2 linked regions of the Homo sapiens genome follow. The protein of the gene in region 1 interacts with the protein of each later gene in a pairwise test. Each region holds a gene or a part of one and is shown on either strand. Other genes may lie near its edges.

What was found. The genes of interacting proteins can lie anywhere in the genome.
Region 2: the proteins of SLAIN1 (region 1) and TFAP2D interact in binary tests that used the Homo sapiens proteins (3 or more experiments, as listed by UniProt).

What each region holds. Positions count from the first base shown.
Region 1 is NC_000013.11:77,695,721-77,699,469, reverse strand, and holds the start of SLAIN1 (SLAIN motif-containing protein 1), read right to left. Parts: upstream 1,784-3,749; 5' UTR 1,557-1,783; coding exon 931-1,556; intron 590-930; exon of another isoform or gene 547-589; coding exon of another isoform or gene 413-546; intron 1-412. UniProt on the Homo sapiens protein: Microtubule plus-end tracking protein that might be involved in the regulation of cytoplasmic microtubule dynamics, microtubule organization and microtubule elongation.
Region 2 is NC_000006.12:50,723,526-50,727,274, forward strand, and holds part of TFAP2D (transcription factor AP-2-delta), read left to right. Parts: intron 1-3,749.

The DNA.
Region 1 (3,749 bases):
GACTACAGCAAGCCTCCCCCTAAAGTTACTCATTCATGGAAAGTAGACAGTGCTAACCAGATGTCAACTGAATAAATGCTGTCAGCCTCAAGTTTTCTGATAACCAAGCTAAAAAGTTTCCAAGAAATAAGAAAATAAGGCTTCTCTAATCTCACTTTTCTTCTACAGTTTAATTTAAAAAATTAAAGACAGTTCGTTGGTTCCTAGGTAAAAAAATAAATAAATAAATAAAAAAGTCCCTCCCACCTGTTCATTCCACTCCAAGAAAAGTCCTCTTTATTGGCACTATTTATGGGAAAGCCAGTGAGGTCACCCCATTTTAAAAAGCAAGTCAGTCTCTGAAAATAAGATTTCAATGAAAATGCAACGCAAAAGGGCACACGACTGCAAAATTCAAACAGCAAGAACGAACCTCTCTATAAAGAGAGATCCATCACTGCGCGGCTTCCGATGCCACCCGAGGAGGAAGAGCACGCAAATCCTGTCCAGCGTTCGTTTAAAACGAAAGAACAGTAACAGTCGCAGACAGAGGCCAACCCCTACCATCCCCCGTCATCCCTCCGAAAACACTGGGGAAAAGAGCAGCACTGAGCAAAAAGACAAGATGACATGGATTTTGCACTTAATGCTAACGAGGAGCTTGGGACCCAACAATCAGCAAATAGCAGAACCCATGGCAGATGGGGGGAAGGGGGGGCCGGTTCATCCGCAGTCGGAGCGATTAGAAAACAGGTTTCTGCCTTCATGAGAAGCCTCATCGTGGGAAGTGTCACCGCCTGGCTCAACACCTGCTGGGTCGGCCCCTCCGGGAGCCGCGGGGAGTCACCCCGGCTGCCGCGAGGGGACCCCCGTCCGCCCCCCGCCCCCGCTCCCCGGTGCCCGAAGCCCCCGAGGCCAGGGTCTCGGGGAAGGAGCGGAGCCAGGCAGTACCAGGTGTAGTCGTCCTCGTCCCGCCAGGCGGCTACGCTCTCCAGATCCAGCAATTCCACCTCGTCCAGCAGCGTGGGGGGCGGCGAGGGCGGCGCTGCAGCTGCCCCTGGCGGCGTCCCCGCGCCCCCCGGCTCCGGCCCGCCACCGCCCGCGCCGAAGAAGCCTGCTGCCGGCTTGAAGTAGACGAAGGGCGCCTCGGGTGGCTGCGCCAGGCTGCAAAGCAGGGAGGGCGCGGGGCTAGGCAGGCAGAAGGTGCCCGGGAACGCGGGGCTGGAGCCACCGCCGCTGCCACTACCGCTGCCGCCACCGCCCCCCGCGCCCAGCGCCAGCCCGAGCCCCAGGCCCCCTGAGGCCGCGGCGGTGGCCGTGGCGGCCGGGGGGCTCCGAGGACCCAAAGGCTGCAGGCCAGCGGGGGGCGGCGCGGCGGGCGGCGGCGGCGGCAGCAGCAGCAGGTGCGGGGCGGCGGCCGCGCTGGCCGCTCGACTCCGCAGCTGCTCGTTCTGCTTCTCCAGCTTGCGCACCAGCTCCTGCAGCTTCTTCACCTCCAGCTCCGCGTTCACCACCGGCCCGGAGCCCGCTCCAGAGCTGACCCCTGCCGAGGCGCATTTCACCTGCTCCGCCATCATCGTGGGCCCCGAGGGCGCCGCGGCCGCCGGGGAGTGCGCGCCGCCGCGCCGGCTCCTCGGGCCACGGGGAGGCTACGGCTCCTTCCCTGTCGCCCCGGCCTGGGGGGCCGACCACGCGCGGGCTGAGGCCGAGCCGGCGGTTCGCATCAGCACCGGGCCCTCGCCTCCGGCCGCGGCAGCCACCACCGAGCTGATCTGCACATGCTCAGTGCGTCCCTCCAGTCCCCTGGGCGTCGCGGCGGCTCCGGGTTTTAGCCGCGGCCCCGGAGCGGGGCGGGGCAAGAGCGCCGAGGGGGCGGGTGGGGGGGGGGGGGCGGAGAACCGTGGGGAAGCCCACCCAGGGGGCGGGGCCGGCAGCCCGGGTTGGGGCCGGGGAGCCGCACCCACCCTCGCTACCTAATCCCAGGGGCCTGATTGGACCTGGCCTGAACTTTCCCGCCACAAGCACCTCCTCCTGCCGCTTGGTGGGACAGTGAACTGCGCGGGTCTCTGAGGCGGTTGCGGGGACCAGGGGGTTCCCAAAGAAGCAGCTGCAGGTGCTGGCCCTCGAGTAGTGCACCACCGGCCCGCTGGTTTGCTCCCTTCCCAGCTCTCTGTTAGGCTCCGTGACAGCACTTAATAGCCACTGGCTAACGAATCCTATAGAAAACTTAAAGGCTGGGGATCGTTATTCTAAAAACCGAAAAGTGGAGATAGGGGGAACAGAAAGGCTTTGGGACCATGCCACTCATGTTCTCATTGGTAATAGAGAAGCAAAATGGTGGGAGACAGGAGACCGAGAAGAAAGAGAAGAAAGCCCTCTCTCTAAGAGGTAGAGTGGCCAGCTGCTAAGGAGACAAGTGTTTACTTATTTATTCTAAAATAGTCAAATTTGAACTGTTACCATCATTGTTTGTCACAATAAAAGAAGAACTGCTTTTTTTTTCATACTATGTATATTCATGCATTCCCCAAACAAAAGATCTTTGAGCACCTACTCTGTGCCAGGAACCATTCTAAGAGCTCGTGATGCGGGCAATGAGTACAATAGGCAAAAATGGTTATGGGGAGAAATATGAGTAAAATTGTTTAGTGCTCCTTCTATTAAATAATGTGTAAGTTATTAAAGTCAGACTTGCTGGTGGGAAAGCAGAAAACAGAAAACCTCAGAATTCTACCCAATACACTTTAATCTCACCTGCAAACCTGCTATTTCTTACCACTTGGAAAACGAGCAAATCTGCTTTTTTTAAAAGAGGCTTTTAAGCAGAAGAATTTAATCGAGTTGTGTTCAATGAATACTGACTGACTTAGCATTTTGAGTGTTTAACACAATCAGAGGAAAACCTGAGATTATATTATGAGAAAAATCTACACCACTGGTTCTCATCCTCAGATGATATACTATCTAGTGAAAGTCCTTGCTAGGGACTTTACATACCAATCTTTGTGACAATGTACCTCATTTCTCTGGAGCTGCTAACACATCGTATCTATTGGTTTCAGATATGGTTTTGTGTCTTCCTGCTCAGAAACACTTGTATCTTCTCAGTTGTTAATCTACATCTCTAGCTTCTGTGTGCAGGGTGGATGTTCTGCATTTAACATGCTTGGTGAGCGCTTCCATAAATTAGCTAAATGCGTGTGATGACTCCCTTAACCTTCCCTGTGTCCCAGCTTGCTAGCCCACCACCTAACCACCTGTATCACCCATCACCTTTCCAAGTTTCGGTATATCTTTAGGATTTTTTTTGGTTATTACCAAAACCTGGAGAAATGGAGTAATACTACTGAAAGTCCTAAGTAAAGAATCTATTGAAGGATTTTTCCCGCATGCTCAGTGGCAGATGCGGGTAGCAGTATCTCCCTGCAACACAAAGAAAGGGAGACGACAGACACAATGAGAACAAAGAGCTGCTGGGTCCCAGACTAGAGAAAGAAATTGGGAATAGGCACATAATAGTGAAGACAACAAGAATTAAGATGTAAAGAAAAGCCGTCATTTTACTGCACAATTTATATACACTCTAAAGAAGGAGAGAAACAGACAGCCCTTTCCTCCTTCATTTACCCAATATGGTCTATATACATCCAACAAGCAGTAGCCAAGCTTTTGAACCCTGTTTTCTAAGTAATAATTATCATAAAAATCTTTGTTCTTTAAAAAGAAAGCATGCATTGAAATTTAGACATAGAAAAGAGATGAAACATTGT
Region 2 (3,749 bases), on another chromosome or scaffold:
TTCATCCATTATGGGTGAAGATAGAGCCAGAGATACACCTCAAGCCTCGCCTGCCTCCTTAGTCCCCAGTGCAGATTCTGCAGGTTTGAAATTCAATCTCCTTTATATGAAATCTAAAACTCTTGTACCAAAGCATCCAGAAGCATGATTTGTTGGAAATCTTTGTGGGCGTTGGGGGTTGTAGAGGGAAAGAGGTAGCTTTCCCACAGCCTACAGCCTTTTCTCTAATTTCTTTAACTGCTTTGAAAATCAGCAGAAACCAAAACACTTTTTGCACTGGGGAATGGGGATTAATCTCCCCCCAACCCCCGCCATACACACACCCTAATATACACCATTACACACCTACCGCCACATTAAACCAGCGAGTCTCTTCACGCACACCTCTCTTTTGTTCTGCCTGGAATCTACAAAAGGAGAAGCTCATTCGGCCCTGGTAATCCAGCTATACCTGTAATGTTATACCCTCCCCCCAAACAATTCGCTCCTTACACATCATCAAAGGCCTACTTGATTCCAATTAAGTCCGCATCCTTTGCTGTTTGATTACAATTAATATCTGCTGCCGTGGGGGGAGAGGTAACATGGGGGGAGGGGTAACATGGGGGAGGAGGGTTAGGAAGGGTGAGAGGCTAGAGAGGAAGCAGCAGAGAATAATTCTCCCCACCCAACTCACAGGCGCACCTCGCAGAAATGCAACCGCAGAACAAACAGGGACAGGAAACTCTTGTAATCGCTTACACATTTTTAATGTGTCAGAAAAAAAAGAGCGATCACTGGAGATGAAGAAGGGGAGAAGAAAAATCCCTGCCGTTTGTATTTCTTTCATTTGAATTGTAAACATCTGTTTGGCTGTAAGGCGAACAGATCATTTATTTTGCTCTCAAGATTTGGTCTAATTATGTCAACACCGACGCTACGACGAGTGGGGCGGCGCTGTGGCTTTGGAGAGGATGCGCGCACCGGCCCAGCGCCCGGAAGCCCGCTAGGAAGTATTGATCGCACCTGGAGAGCGCGCGGGACCTCTCGCCACAGCTGGGTGCGTTCTGAGACGGGGGAGGCGCGGAGGCCGTGAGTATGGCTCAGAGGCAGATTTAGAGGCTCCAGGGACCCGCGGCTCCTTGGAGACAGCCGCCGCTGTTTCCTCTGCCCCAGTAGCCTGGGATGAGAAGAGAAAAAGCTCACCCAGGCTCCGGCGCTTGTCTTTCCCATCCAGTTGCAGCACAGACGGTGGCGGGGTGTGTGTGTGTGTGTGTCGGCGGGGGGACCTGTCTTGTCCTACCCCGCAGTTCACACCCTGCAACGGGGTAGTTGTTTTTTTAAAAAAAAGTGGCGGGGTTGGGTGGCCTATAATCAGGTTGCCGAGCGTGCGTGCATCCATTTCCCATTGCACCTCCTTACAAGGTGGGGAGATAAGTAGAGCAAGTGTGAGCATCTTCATTGTTTAGATGGACAGACTAGACCCAGAGTCATTCGCCCAAAGTTGCGTGAGTCGATAGTTGGTCAAATTCTTACTTGTAGCCCGGTACTCTTTCCACTGCCCCACACTGTCTGCAGACACTGGCCAGATGTCCCCTGTTATGCCAAGGCAGCCAAGGTAAAGCCACCCCATGCTTCTTCAAACCGAATAAGATCTAACAAGATATGGCAGCTGGAGGATCTGCATCCATGTATTTTGTGCTAGTTTTGTCACACCTGAGCCAGAAGTCTCTGGCTGACTTCTTCCTGTAGCTATGGCAAAGTTATCCCTTTTAATGAAAGCCATGTCCTAGGCAAAGGACCTTGAGCAGATAGTTTCTGATTTCTTACCACTGTTACCATAGCTACCCATCAGAATTTGCAGCATCACTGAAAATAGAGAGCCCTATCTCCAAATTCCAAATTTAAAAATAGTGAACTTTGTGAAAGTATTGCTTCTGTGAACTGTATATGGAAAAGGGATGAACTCTGGAGAAGTTCTGCATGAATACACTGGCTATAGAATCAAAGACATTCTTAATTGTGATGCTGAATCTAGAATGATTATCACATAATTTCAATATGAGCTGACATGCAACACAAGCACCATGAGGAAGTTCAAGTAGTAACACTGGGGATGACTACTGTAAATGGCTTGGTGTGGGCCAACGTTTCATAACATTCTTCTTTGAGATCTCATCATTACCATCTGTAGTCTGGATTATCTTAAAGAAGTATCACTCCCTCAGCACCTTCAATCTAAAGGCAAAACCCTGGTGATATTGACCTACTACTTTTTTCCACCTCTCTAAAGAATAAATCACCAAGAAGAAAGATATCAGGTTCCCCAAGTTGCTGTAAACTCTACAAGTTGCCAAATCTTTAGCCAGGACTAGAGAGTTCCCCAAGGTTGCAGCAATGCCAGGTATCAAAGCAACAGAAATTCCCTTTAAAGATGCTGTGACATAAAAAATAAAAGACTCTAGAGTTGATGGCTAATCCTGAATACAAAATAAATCCTTCAGGCAATTTGTGTGTGCATAAAGCATACTCTTAATATGCAGCTTGTGTAACTTACCTAATAAATGTCTACTTGAGCATAAGCCAGAAGCCCAACCTAGATGTAGGAGAGGGAGACTCTGGGCCCAGGGAGTTAGCACGTGGGTAGATAGCAGACTCAGTGGCTTCCCTGGGAGCAGCTGGCTTTCAACACATAAGGTTCACTTTGCCAAAAGTCTTCCAGTTGGGGAGAGCCTGATCTAACAACTTCTTTTAAAAATGATAATCATCTACATCTCCCTAAATTAGGTTTCTAATCCACTGAAGATTAGTAAAGATAAGAAAGTTCTAAAATTGTGGTATTCCCTACCCTTAGCATCCAGGAAAATAATTCATACATATACTCAAACGCTCTGTTCTCTCACTTATCATAAACTTGAAGCTAACTGGCAACTGTGTGAGATTCCTTGTGTCCTCATTTGTATACTGGCTAGTATGCAAGAGAGGAAAGTTTATGTCAGAATATCAATTTGCTTATGATTTATAGTGACTGTGAGTAGAGATCCATTTTTAGAAGAGGGCTATGTGAATTTTGCATAAAGACATTGATTTCTCTTTGTTTAATATATTTGGGGTAGACTTATCTAATTCCTAAAATAATCAGGATCAAAATTCTCACAGTATGACTCTACACCACAGATTCATTAATACCTACCTTGCTTTCCTGTTCATCTAAAATTTTAAGAAGTCATTTAAGATTTTTTTTTGAAATGCATTTTGCATCTCTAAGTACAGAGTGAAACCGATAACAAAAGTGAAATGGTAGTCTTAGGTCCAGGAATCTGGGGGAACATTTTTATTGTTGTATTTTGGCTTAAAACTCGGTGAGAATATGAAGAGGGGGAAGTACAGGAGAATTTGTTTTTAGCTCCTAAAGCAGGTGTTTACATGGTTTGCCATTGTATTGGCTACAAGTTTGATGTCAAGAAATGGATTTTAATTTGACGATTGAGATTTTGAACTCTCAGATTTCTAACTGCGAACAGGTTTTCAGACACTGTCATGGAGGTTTTGGCAGAGTGCACAGGACCTAACTTCTAGCCTGAAGATGGTTGGCTACCCTGACATTCCCACTGATTACTCTTCTGGTTTTTGTTGGTTTGTTGTTTTTTGGAGGGACTTTAGAATGCTTAGGGAGAAAGATCTTGGTCTCCAGCACTTGCAAGGAAAACTTGGGTGACCAAAAGACAGTCAGGAAGAATTCCAGAAGGTACAGGGGTAGAAATGTTTTA